Linked DNA regions of Homo sapiens. The protein of the gene in region 1 interacts with the protein of each later gene in a biochemical or structural test. Each region holds a gene or a part of one and is shown on either strand. Other genes may lie near its edges.

Evidence for each region. The genes of interacting proteins can lie anywhere in the genome.
Region 2: the proteins of USP4 (region 1) and RHEB form a complex in vitro, tested with the Homo sapiens proteins (one study listed by BioGRID).
Region 3: the proteins of USP4 (region 1) and TCF7L2 form a complex in vitro, tested with the Homo sapiens proteins (one study listed by BioGRID).
Region 4: of the proteins of USP4 (region 1) and TRIM55, one has a biochemical effect on the other in vitro, tested with the Homo sapiens proteins (one large-scale study listed by BioGRID).

What each region holds. Positions count from the first base shown.
Region 1 is NC_000003.12:49,278,808-49,281,177, reverse strand, and holds part of USP4 (ubiquitin carboxyl-terminal hydrolase 4), read left to right. Parts: intron 1-330; coding exon 331-434; intron 435-2,275; coding exon 2,276-2,364; intron 2,365-2,370.
Region 2 is NC_000007.14:151,492,326-151,495,990, forward strand, and holds part of RHEB (GTP-binding protein Rheb), read right to left. Parts: intron 1-3,665. UniProt on the Homo sapiens protein: Small GTPase that acts as an allosteric activator of the canonical mTORC1 complex, an evolutionarily conserved central nutrient sensor that stimulates anabolic reactions and macromolecule biosynthesis to promote cellular biomass generation and growth.
Region 3 is NC_000010.11:113,152,652-113,156,316, forward strand, and holds part of TCF7L2 (transcription factor 7-like 2), read left to right. Parts: intron 1-3,665. UniProt on the Homo sapiens protein: Participates in the Wnt signaling pathway and modulates MYC expression by binding to its promoter in a sequence-specific manner. Acts as a repressor in the absence of CTNNB1, and as activator in its presence.
Region 4 is NC_000008.11:66,147,534-66,151,198, forward strand, and holds part of TRIM55 (tripartite motif-containing protein 55), read left to right. Parts: intron 1-2,111; coding exon 2,112-2,345; intron 2,346-2,683; coding exon 2,684-2,706; intron 2,707-2,808; coding exon 2,809-2,933; intron 2,934-3,665. UniProt on the Homo sapiens protein: E3 ubiquitin ligase that plays an important role in regulating cardiac development and contractility, muscle growth, metabolism, and fiber-type differentiation.

The DNA.
Region 1 (2,370 bases):
GCCTAATTTTTGTATTTTTAGCAGAGACGGGATTTCACCATGTTGGTCGGGCTCGTCTCGAACTCCTGATCTCAGGTGATCCACCTGCCTTGGCCCCCCAAAGTGCTGGGATTACAGGCATGAGCCACCACACCCAGCCCCATTTTCTAGCCTGAATATGTCAGTGGTCAGAACATGGATCCTAGAGTCCCTTCCATCTTGGTCTCTCTCGAATAGTTTGAGTGCCTCCCTGTGTTCTGCCCTGTTGCATAACAGAGGTTGCTGGGTTACTCTTAACTACTTTGTTTGGGTTTAACATATTCAATAACTATTTTTGTGTTTTGTGCTCAGAGGGCTGAACATGTCCGAGTTTGTCTGTAACCTGTCAGCAAGGCCTTATGTGTACGACCTCATTGCCGTGTCCAATCATTATGGAGCCATGGGGGTTGGCCACTGTAAGTATTGACATCTGCTTCCTTCTGAGATGTTGAAATGTGCTCGGCCATCATCTCTCACCAGTGGACCAGGCATTGCCCTAAATGCTTTGCTTATGCAGTTTCACAGGCTTCATGCTGCACGCTTTCTTCATACTGATTCCCCTCTCTGTTTTTTTTTAATTCTTTTTTTTTTTTTTTTTTTGAGACGGAGTCTCGTTATGTCACCCAGGCTAGAACACAGTGGCGCAATCTCACTCACTGCAAGCTCTGCCTCCCAGGTTCACGCCATTCTCCTGCCTCAGCCTCCTGAGTAGCTGGGACTACAGGCGCCCGCCACCACGCCTGGCTAATTTTTTGTATTTTTAGTAGAGACGGGGTTTCACCATGTTAGCCAGGATGGTCTCGATCTCCTGACCTCGTGATCCGCCCGCCTCGGCCTCCCAAAGTGCTGGGATTACAGGTGTGAGGCACTGTGCCTGGCTGGTTTGCTCTTTTTTTGAGACAGATTCTCACTCTGTCACCCAGGCTGGAAAGCAGTGGCGCAGTCTCGGCTCACTTGCAACCTCCACCTCCCGGGTTCAAGCGATTCTCGTGCCTCAGCCTGCCGAGTAGCTGGGATTACAGGTGTGCGCCACCACACCTGGCTAATTTTTGTATTTTTAGTAGAGACAGGGTTTTGGCATGTTGCCCAGGCTGGTCTTGAACTCCTGGGCTCAAGCGAACCACCCTGCCTTGGCCTCCCAAAGTGTTGGGATCACAGGTGTGAGTCACCGTGCCCTGCCTGTGTTCATTTTTATTTGCTAATTTTTGCACACAAACATACCATTTGGGCAAGTTTCTCATCCTCAGTTTTCTCATCCATGAGGTTAGGCTGGTTGTGTGAGGGTCCACATTGGGCCTACAGTTGGAACTTCAAAATTGAAAGCCACCGTTGCTGCTATTGTGTCAAGCACAGACTGTGTGAACTGGCCTTGGGCACCTTCTCTGTTGCCCTTTCCCATGATCCTCACCACCACTTTGTGCAGTCAATGCTATAGTGAGGAAACTGAGGCTGAAGTGTTAAACACCTTACCTAAAACCACACAGTAAGTTGACACTGGATATCAGATCTCCATTGGGTTCTGTAGTTTCTGAGAGTCTGGGTGGAGCAGGAACTGGGCTGGGATTGCTGTAATAAACACATCCTGCTTGGGAATAGTGTAAAGTCAAGACAAGAAGCATTGCCTCTGGGAAATGCTTGAATCATTGTGGGAAACTGTTACCTAACCACAGACTCTGGACTCCTAGTTTTAGAGAAAGATAAATTTTTTTTTTTTTGGATATGGAGACTAAGGTATGTTGTTCACATCCCAGCTCTGCAAACCCAAACACCCAATGTTCCTCTAACTGGGATTATTCTGTAGGCTCCCGAGGCACTAAGCATTCTGTTGATGTTAGTAGCCACCTGCCTAGATGCAATGGGGGAGACTGACTTGGCATGTCCTTGTGAGAGCTATTGTTTTGCTTAAATCTTAGAAGTTTCAGCTCCTTTTATGGGTTCCCTGGTTTTGGATTATTGCACATAGCCATCCTGAAGATTGGCACTGAATAGCTCTGTTTTTTCTATTAGTTTCCCAAAATTATAGTTTAAAATCTTGGTCCCTGACAGCTCCATTTTTAGCCTTTTGATCCTTTTTGAGAAGGAACAGATTAGAAAAGAAGGTGAGTTGTTTTTTGGTTGTTAAGACACACACTGTAAACTTTTTTAATTTCAGGGGTTTTGTTTTGGGGATTTTTGTGTTTATTTAGTGCAAGCCTAATAAGCTAGCCAGATTAATTCTCTGGAGACCGCTAGAGTATTTTCTTTGTTGACTTGGCAGACACTGCATATGCGAAGAACAAACTGAATGGTAAATGGTATTACTTTGATGATAGCAACGTGTCCCTGGCCTCTGAGGATCAGATAGTGGTGAGT
Region 2 (3,665 bases), on another chromosome or scaffold:
GGTTGCTGGCCGGGTGTGGTGGCTCATGCTTGTAATTCCAGCACTTTGGGAGGCTGAAGCGGGTGGATCACCTGAGGTCTGGAGTTCGAGACCAGCCTGGCCAACATGGTTGGTCCTGTCTCTACTAAAAATACAAAAAAAGTTACCCAAGCGTGGTGATGGGCACCTGCGATCCCAGCTACTCAGGAGGCTGAGGCAGGAGGATAGTTTGAACCCAGGAGGCGGAGGTTGCAGTGAGCTGAGATGGCGCCACTGCACTCCACTCTGGGCAACAGAGTGAGACTCTGTCTTATAAAAAAAAAAAAAGAAAAAAAGTAGGGGTTGCTGAGAAGGAAAGGCCACAAGTTGGTAGACCTATTTACTCCTTATCCGCAGCCCAATACAGTTCAAAATGTCTCTAGAATTACTAATACCTGAAATTATTCTCTACAAAGCAACCTACATGAGCATTTGAAAATTAAACGCTACTTCTCTGCTTCCAATCCTCATTGCAATTAGAATAAATTCTCAACATTTTTTTTTTTTTTTTTTGAGACGGAGTCTTGCTGTGTCACCCAGGCTGGAGTGCAGTGGTGCAATCTTGGCTCACTGCAACCTCTGCCTCCCGGGTTGAGGCGATTCTCCTGCCTCAGCCCTCCTGAGTAGCTGGGATTACAGGCACGCGCCACCACACCTGACTAATTTTTTTTGTATTTTTAGTAGAGACAGGGTTTCACCACATTGGTCAGGCTGGTCTCGAACTCCTGACCTCATGATCCACCCGCCTCGGCCTCCCAAAGTGCTGGGATGACAGGCGTGAGCCACCGCGCCTGCCCTAAATTCCCAGCTTCTAACCGTGGCCCACAAACACCAGGCCATCCCTGCTCTGGTTACCACTCTGACCTCATCCGCCAACAGCCCCCGACAACCCATCCTGAGGCTCCAGTCACATCCCTTCTGCTCCTGGAGTTCCTGCCTGCCTTGGCCCCTTTACTCTAGCAACCCCCACTGCCCCCATCTCTGAATATATGACTCATCTTTGTCATTCTGATCTGAGCTCAAATGTTAGTTTCACAGAGAAACCTTCAAGACCACCCTAAGGTAGTACCCATTCCTTAAAAGTCATTCTCATAGCTACTGTTTTATTAAGTTATTTGGAATGATATTCATTTAGTGAACACTCCACTGAAGCCAGCACAGGGCCAGCCGACACATTGTAAACATTGAGATTTCTGAACAAATGAACGAAATTAAAGCGTAGATCTCCAAAGGTCACTCTTAGCCATTTAGATACTACAAAAGATCTCAATTTTATACAAATGAAATACAAAACACAGTTCAACAGAAATTAAGAAACAATTCAATTAGTATTTATTGGTACCTAATCACAGGCTTGCCTGTGATATAGGAATACAATAGTTTAAGAATTCCACAAATTTAAAATGAATTGTGTTGAAAAGAAACCATGTTATATATGCTAGCCTGTAAAGGAGAATTTAACTCAAAATACAGCAGAACTACTTCAGGTAACAAAAATAGCAAGAAGAAAACTCCTCTCATGTTATTGAAACTGAAAAATTAGAAGGAGTAAAAAAAAAACAAACTGTTATTTACACTGAATGCTACTGCTTAAAGAAATGAAATTTAATTAGAAAGAAAGAAGGGAACAAACTTCTTAAGGGCTTTTGCAAGGTACTTCTAAGGACTCCAGTGGGCTTTTTATACCCTTATGTGGGTAGGATAAGGGTTTGTGGGGTTTTTGTTTTGCTTACAAATGGAAAGAAAGGAAAGAAAGCGATCATTTTCTCCCTAAAGATATGGGCAAGAGTTACAAAGAAAAAAGGAAATAATATAATTAAAAAGATTTTTGCAACATTTTGTGTAGTAGAACTGGACTAAAAATAGTGAAAGAGGGGCTAAGTATGATACATGGGATAAGCTCCCCAAGCACTGGGCAACCAGGAACCCCTGGATCAGACAGTCCTCTGAACTGGCACTGGCCAAGTCTCGACAACCTGACTTGCGGGAGTGAAGGGACGGGGGAAAAGAGCCTCAGGAGTTTCCCGTGAAATTCAGGAAGCCACATTTGAACAGAAAAGAAAGTTACACACATTAAACAAGACAGCATGAGATCAAGTGCAAAAACGGAGTGAGAGAAGAGCTCCTTATTTGTATCACAATGGGCATACACTATTTGACAGGCTAAATTAACATTTCACTTGAAAACATAAGTAATCATTCCGGTAACAGACAATGTAGTCTAACCAAAATCACATCGCAGGTTGACAGCCAACTGTTGTTTTCATGAATAGTAAACTGGGATACCAGAATTTAAAACGTATTCCTCCAGGGTGGAAACTGGATTTTCAATCAGACTGGCCCTAGGAGAAAGGTACTGTTCATTAGCAGAAGTGGCACTGGAGAAAAACTACGTTTCCCTTGGGTCTCTCCTCCCTGGGGCTCTCCCGCCAAGGTGAGGTCATTAATTATTTAACTAATCCAGAAGGGATAGGAAGGCTATATTTGCTAACATGCTGTTTTTTGCCATTTCCATTAAAAAGTGCTATTATTAACTAGTGTTGAAATCTTGACAAGTCAGCATTAAATGCTAATGAATCTTCATAAATAAACCCCACCGCTCATTTTCAAGTGTTCTCAGTTCCAGTTGTAATTTCTGGCTTTAAGGAGTGTCTTCTGGAGACGTAGTTCAGATCTTTTGGTTAGGTTTTTCTAGTTTGTTTGCAACCACAAAAAGGCATTGGTGATCTCTACTGTGATCACCTTTAACCTTTTTCTCTCAATAACTTCATATATTTACTTTGGCTTTTGTCCTTAGCAAATTCAGGTCTGGAAACACTGTTACTCGCTTGCTGAAGATAATCTCACACTCCAGATCAACTCTTTGGAAAAATGTTACATGAAAACTACACAGGAGTGATCCCAAATAAATGGAAAAGTAGCCCATACTCAGATGTGTGTTTATCCTCAAACACAAATCACTCATTTAATGACATAAATTACTATAAATGGTTTAAAAGGCAGTATCTCAATTCCTACAATTAACTGTCAAATACTCTTCCTCCAAACCAAAACCCACCTTAACTTTTAAAAATAAAAATTATTTTAAAAAATTCTTCTGAGCTTTTATCAGGGAACAGCATTGTATTATTTTTTCCAATGATAAAATGGCACAGTGAGTTTCTCAGCTGGTATTTTCACTACAGAAGGTGTACTTTCAGGGGTGTTGACTCAATCTTATACCTCATGATTACTGCAAAATAGGCACTGTTTACAGAATTATTTTAAGTTTTCAGATTAATATTGACTTTGTTATCATGCTTATTCTCCTAAAAAATAACTTATTAGCCCGGTGTGGTGGCTCATGCCTGTAATCCCAGCACTCTGGGAGGCTGAGGCCGGTGGATTGCTTGACCCCAGGAGTTTGAGACCAGCCTGGACAACGTGATAAAACCCTATCTCTACAAAAAAAATATAAAAATTAGCTGAGTGTGGTGATGTGTGCATATAGTCTCAGTTACTCAAGAAGCTGATGTAGGAGGATCGCTTGAGCCGAAGGGTTGAGGCTGCAGTGTGCGTTGAGCGTGCCACTGCACTCCAGCCACGGTCTGTCCCCCCTCCCACCGACTCCCTACAAGCCCAGCATTTTCCCAGTTTATACATTGCTT
Region 3 (3,665 bases), on another chromosome or scaffold:
AGGGTGGAGAGAGGAGGCTGCAGTCCCAGTGTTCCAGCTCAGGACCAATGAGGTTGATTTGGTGCTTGTCTCCTTTCTAGAGGAGGCAAGGCTCTTAGGATACACCCAAAGGACCTTATGTTCCGGATTAGGTTCCGCAGGCTCCTCAGCAGTGATCAGTGGTGTGGCCTTCTAGGGAAGACCAGTGGGTAGGTGTGGAGGAACAGAATTTAATTCCTCCCAGGCCTTTCAGCAGGCCCTTTACCGTTAAGAAGGAAAAACAAAACTATTCCTTTGTGCCATGGTGCAGTAGAAGTTAGAAGCCTATTTCATCCTGAGAGGAGCATGATGGGAATATCCCTGAAAGCAGCCAGAGGAAGTCAGCCTTTGGCAGGATGCATGAACCGACTCTGGCCCCAGCAAGGGCAGGGAAAGTGTGCTATGCGGTGTGTGTGTTCCTGGGCTCTGTGTTGGCTACAGGATCTGCCTAGTCCTCTCTTGGGTTGTAGGAAACACCATGGGATGATTGTTTTTACTAATTGCAGTGGTTGTGACCCCACGATTCCTCTCCTCCCATGAGCACGCTGTCTTCCGGAGACTTCTGTCACTTCTCACCATTGCTGGTTATCCTCCATTTTGCCCAGTAACTCCGCTTTCCTCTCTCGAGGGATGAAATGCCTCTTGTTTTGCCTGATACTTTATTTCATGACATTTGGTTCCGTGAAGGGATTTCACCATCCACTCTTAGGGGAACACCAAAACTTGTCTTAAGGCCGGCACAGGCCTCTCATCCCCTTCCTGTCGATGTCTTGGAGCCATGGATGGTTACTTTTCCAGTTACTTTTGACTCTCCCACTGGCATCATCCGCGGTGAAGCAGCTTGACGTATAGGGGTCGAGGTCGTTAAATTATTACTGAATTGAGTGAAACATATCATGGCCTTTGAGGCTTCTGTGGCAGGGGCTGGGGACACACAGCTCTTAACTGCCTTGGCCTGGAAGTGTCATGGGTCACTTACTCCCATCACCCATTGGCCAGAGCTAGTCATGTGACCCAACCTAACTGCAGGAGATGCTGGGAAATGTGCAGTTACTGTGCACAAGTTATTACAGGGATTCAGAGTTAAGTCGGATATCTTTACTCCCTCAGAACTTAGCATCCGCCAGGAAATCGCAAACATCTGCCGGCCTATGTGATCCTGAGGAAGAGCTGCTTCTGCCTGCTCTGATGAGTAATTTCAGGCCTCCTTCCTCTTTCTTCTCATACTTTTAAACCCGTGCTTGCCATGTAGATGAGGGAACAGGGAGGTGCCCCTGGCCATCTTTCTCGAGGCCCTGCCCCCTTAGCTGGCAGCGCTAGACTGTGCTCCTCCTGGGAGTTGAATCAGGAAGGAGTGCTGGCACCTCTGGGATGGCGCGTGTGCTCTGCTGAGAGCCCTTGTCGCCGACAGATGGGCTTGCACGGGGTCTCCACTGCTTGGGACCTTTCTGTTTGTCCCCAGCATGTGTGCAGTGGGGAGGCCTTTCTTCTGGAGCTGAAAGGAAGAGGATGAGAAAGTGAATGCTCTCCCACAGGCTTGCTGTTCACCCCCACCTGACCCTGAGGTGGAGATTTCCAGTAGCAGGCAGGCTCCATAGCCTCCACGTACACAACCATATCATTTCAGGACAGCTGCTCTCCTGGTTTCGGGTCAGAAGTTCTTAGAGTTCATCTTGAGCTTCTACCTGCTACAGACCCAATTCTTTGAGTAATCTAGAATGATACCACAGAGCGGAATTCAGCTTCTCTATAGAGATCATATCCCCAATAGACATTTTGGGTCATAGTAGGGCCTTCATGTACAGCTGTGCAGGGCGTGCACTGCACAACTCTAGAGTATGTCATTTACACTGGGGTCTATGTGAATGGTGCCCCCTGGAGTTGTGCAGGGTGAAATCTCTACAAAGGTACAAGGCAGACTGTGATAGCTTCAAAAGAATACCGTGTTTGACTTGCCTGGGAGTCGTTTAGAGAAAGTATTGCTCGAGGCTTTTTGTGACATACTTTCTCGGTTTCAGAAGGGCTGTTAGGCACTCGAAATGACTTTAGCTCAGTTTTAAATTTGGAAGATGGTTTGGTATAATAAGGGAACTCCTGAGACGATTTGAGGTTTAGAGATCTGGATTTAGGGCTCTAGGAACTTTATCTCTTGTAAGAGGTACTTAGATTCCTATTACAATGGCTCATTACACATGGGTGTGAACACACACACTCACACTCACGCCTTCCTTTTATGCGCTAGGGAACACTGGGACTAAGAACCGCAGCACTGAAGCTTTTATGGATTTGAATGTGGTAGCAACTTAACTAGTATTTTTTTTTTTTTTTTTTAACTAACTTGACGTGGGAGTTTCCATATATTACTTTGGTCATTGTAAACTCCAAAAGCTTCTTCTGGAAAATATTTCCTGAGATCTTCTCATGGCTCTTTCACATTCCTGCTTTTCCAGCCAACTGGTAACGGAAGCCTTTATATCTTTACCTTAGGACAACAGAATTGAGTGAAACAGTCACGTTTGGATTGTCAGACTTGGTACCTTCTTTAGAGCCCAAGAGAAAACATCTTGAGTCCCATAGTAATATGTAACCCCTGGGATTATATTTGACATTATTTCCTTTTTAACCCTCTACACTGGGTAAAGGATAGAGGTCCCATGCCATTTGCTCACCTGAGTTTCTTTTCTTCTACCCATATCGTAGGCCCTTTCTTTCTTCTGTTACATTTAAAGGGGTAGTAGCGTGGCCACTTCCCTGGAGATGCATCTTCCTCTTCACTAAGTGTAGGGTTTATCCACTTTCTCATGTCTTCTTTTTATTAAAACACAATCCCTGTCCTCCAGAAGTCTCTAGTCTAAATGACAACTTCTTCAGTAGTCAACATCTCCGTGCTATATCCTAAAGGCACAGCTTCTTTGTGTGTAGAGGAATTTTCAGATGCCTTCACAGTATATTGCAAGGAATTGGAAACGGGGATGCTTTTTCACACATGGCTGAGAAGCCCTTGGGTATGTGGATGCTGATACTCCTTGAAGTTAAAACATTTCTGTGCCCAGTTTTTATGAATACTTCAGGCTCCTAAATGAACCGAAACTAGGCCCGCCTGCCTGTTCCAGGATAGCCAGGTGGCACTTTGCCCCTCACGTGGGAGAGGCGCGGGCATGGAGATGGTCCATTGCAGGCCCATGAGATGCCAGCTTCATGATAAAGCACATGAGGTCCTTTTAAAAGAAATTGTACATGAAGGAACATAGCGCGTTTCAACAAGATCCCCGAACAGAAGGCCAAAACAAAGCTCCCAAGTTGCACAGGCCCCTTCCCCTCACAGAAAAGATAGGCCATTTCTACAACAGATGGCCCTCAGCCCTGGGTGGAGCCTAAGCTTGGTGGCATCACCACCTTGAGGTTTTCCTGACAGAACCTAACGTGTTCTCGAGTTTCTTTCTTTCTTTTTTTTTTTTTTTTTTGAGACTGAGTCTTGTTCTGTCACCAGGGTGGAGTGCAGTAGCACGATCTCAGCTCACTGCAACCTCTGCCTCCCAGGTTCAAGTGATCCTCCTGTCTCAGCCTCCCCAGTAGCTGGGACTACAGATATGTGCCACCACGCCCAGCTAATTTTTTGTATTTTTAGTAGAGATGGGGTTTCACCA
Region 4 (3,665 bases), on another chromosome or scaffold:
CGCCTGTAATCCCAGCACTTTGGGAGGCCGAGGCGGGTGGATCATGAGGTCAGGAGTTTGAGATCAGCCTGACCAATATGGTGAAACTCCTTCTTTACTAAAAATACAAAAATTAGCCGGGCAAGGTGGCATGTGCCTGTAATCCCAGCTACTCAGGAGCCTGAGGCAGGAGAATCACTTGAACCTGGGAGGTGGAGCTTGCAGTGAGCCGAGATCGCGCCATTGCACTCCAGCGTGGGTGACAGAGCATGACTCCATCTCAAAAAAAAAAAAAAAAAAAAAAACCACAAAATCTATTCAACAGATATTTAGTGAACAGCTACTATCCAAGGTGCTCTGTGTCCTAGGCAGACCCAGATTCTACCCTCAAAAAAAATATACTTTGGATATTTAAGAAATTCACATAAAGGAAGAAAGCAATACATGACATAAAAGACTTCAATGTTTACCAAAATGAAAGAATATGTAATAAAGGGTATAGAATGGTCAGAGATGTCAGAAATAAATTTGCTGGATTCCCAAGAAGCTCTCACTGTGCGGGAGAGCTAGGTTAGATCACTATGGCTCACAACCTGCTCTCAGCTATAAAGGTCCTGGACCCAGAGATGGTCAAGTCCAAGGAGATTGGCATACATGCACACCAAGCTTACCAGGGATTGAAAAACCAAAAGGCCAATGACTAGATGAACTGGATAATTAATTATGATTTAAAGATGGGCCCAGACTAAAGGGATCTGGATGGTACTGGAGATACTTCAGCCACACAACACAAATGTGCAAGCCAGACTTCCAACACAGCCTTTCTCTCCAAGAGCATAGACCAGATACAGTATTACCCATTCTTAGGCAGTATTGGATAAATAGAGGATCTGGTAGATACAGATATATGCTATCAATGGTAACTATTATGAGATTTCAGAAAGTTAAAAGTTGCATTCAGCCATAAACATCAAGGGACACTTTATGGAAGAAGTGGTAGTCTGACAATGTCTTTGAAATTGCATAGAGTTTGCAGTGGTGACTTGGGGAAGAACACTGTAGACAGAAGGGAAAGCATGAACAAAGAAAGTGAGTGGTTTATTTTTGCTGGAATTCAGGGTATACAATGGAGGATAGTAGAATGTTATGAGAGAAATTGGAACCAGATCATGGAGGGGTCTTGAAAGCTAGTTAGGAAGTTTAAGTGTTATTCTTTGTGTAATAGGGAGTCATCATAGAAAAAAACATGATTAAGGCCGGGCACGGTGGCTCACGCCTGTAATCCCAGCACTTTGGGAGGCTGAGGTGGGCGGATCACTGTAGGTCAGGAGTTCAAGACCGGCCTGGCCAATGTGGTGAAACCCCATCTCTACTAAAAATTCAAAAATTAGCTGGGTGTGGTGGCAGGTGCCTGTAATTCTAGCTACTTGGGATGCTGAGGCAGGAGAATTGCCTGAACCTGGGAGGCGGAGGTTGCAATGAGCCGAGATCACACCACTGTACTCTAGCGTGGGCAACAGAGCTAGACTCTGTCTCAAAGAAGAAAGAAAGGAAAGAACAAAAAAACATGATTAGAACTGTACTCTGAGAAAATTAACTTGGTTGCAGTGTGTAAGTTGACTGGGAGGAGGGAATCCTAGCTGCAGAGGCCTTTGGGAAGCTACAAATTCTATATAGGAGGACTGAAACTAGGACAATATTGGTATAGGTGGAGCAGAGACTTTAAGGTACAAACCAGGAAGTATCATAGTATTTTCCTTGCATGCACACACATGCACACACACTCCAAAGCAAAATATAACCTATAACCTATGTAACCCAAATATAATATAAAAGAAAATCATTCTTTATTTCTATGAAATTCTCCATTTATAAAGAACAGAAGATTGAAAAACCATTGATTCATGTAGCCAATTTAATTGAGTTTTAGATAGTCTAAATATCAAATTTGTTAAAAATGGAATTTCCAAAGCACCAACATAGTGGGTATCCATACCTAAATAGACATCTTCAGGGAAAAGAAAAAAATATCCTACATAAGTAAATGTTCTTCTTTCCCAGGATAACTAGGTGATTTCTCCAAATCGACTTTGTTTCAAATACTTTCTAACATTAGCTAACCCAACTAATAGGAATGTTGCAGAAAACAGAAACAAGAGCTTTGTGAGAAGTTTGATTACCTGTATGGCATTTTGGAGGAGAGGAAGAATGAAATGACCCAAGTCATTACCCGAACCCAAGAGGAGAAACTGGAACATGTCCGTGCTCTGATCAAAAAGTATTCTGATCATTTGGAGAACGTCTCAAAGTTGGTTGAGTCAGGAATTCAGTTTATGGATGAGCCAGAAATGGCAGTGTTTCTGCAGGTAAGTCTCTTTTTGGCACCAAAGTAACAACCCAAAAGGTGGGTGTTGGAAAATTAGTTATCACATTTTTATTATTTTATGTACATTTCAGTTTTTATTTATTTTACCAACTAAAATATAAACCCCATGTGCTTATATATTAATCTATTTAAACAACTTAAATAGCATGTCTATGATACTGCTTAAATCTAATAGGGTTCTGTTATAAGACAGCAGTTATTTATGACATTTAGAAACTAAGCTATGAGATTCTCAGAGTCAACAAAGGAAATAATTGTCTTACCACTGTCTTTTGTGGAAATAATTTAAGTAAGACTATCTTTTGTTTGCTTTCACAGAATGCCAAAACCCTGCTAAAAAAGTAAGAACTTTTTATTTTATGTAAAAATGCATATTTTCACCTTTACCCAAGGCTATCCAATTTTCAACAGTGACAGAAAGTGGCAACTTGTCTTTGTTGCAGAATCTCGGAAGCATCAAAGGCATTTCAGATGGAGAAAATAGAACATGGCTATGAGAACATGAACCACTTCACAGTCAACCTCAATAGAGAAGAAAAGATAATACGTGAAATTGACTTTTACAGAGGTTTGTTATTCTTTTGACCATTTGGCCGAAGTTGCAGGTGTGTGAAAGCTGCCGAAGAGTTGGGTGGGAGGAAAGCGGGGATTCAGAATCACCTCCAGAATCAATGTCGACAACTTTACAAGGATCATATCCAATGTGAAGCTCTATTTCATTACAGGATCACATCGTTTGTTGACAGTGTTTATTTAGCTTTGCACATATGGTGCCTTTTTTTTTTTTTGATGGACTCTCACTCTGTTGCCCAGCCTAGAGTGCAATGGCACGATCTTGGCTCACTGGAACCTCCACCTCCTGGGTTCAAGCGATTCTCCCGCCTCAGCCTCCTGAGTAGCTGGGATTACAGGCACCTGCCACCACACCCGGCTAATTTTTGAATTATTAGAGAGGTAGGGTTTCGCCATGTTGGCCAGGCTGGTCTCGAACTTCTGACCTCAGGTGATCCACCTGCCTTGGCCTCCCAAAGTGCTGGGATTACAGAAGTGAGCCACCATGCCCGGCCTGGTGCCTATTTTAATGTCAGGTTGGGTATTTGACTCTTGATAAGCAAATGCTTCATAATTGATAATGATGATATCTCAACTTCAATCCTATGCACAGTGTTAGCCAAAATAATGTAAAGTGTCAGCAGGAGCAAGGTTAAAGATGAGATAAAAACAATACATAGGAGGCATGTGGGTTAGATATTGCAGCACATCAACTTAATCAAAATTTAGAGGACAAGAATAGTAACAA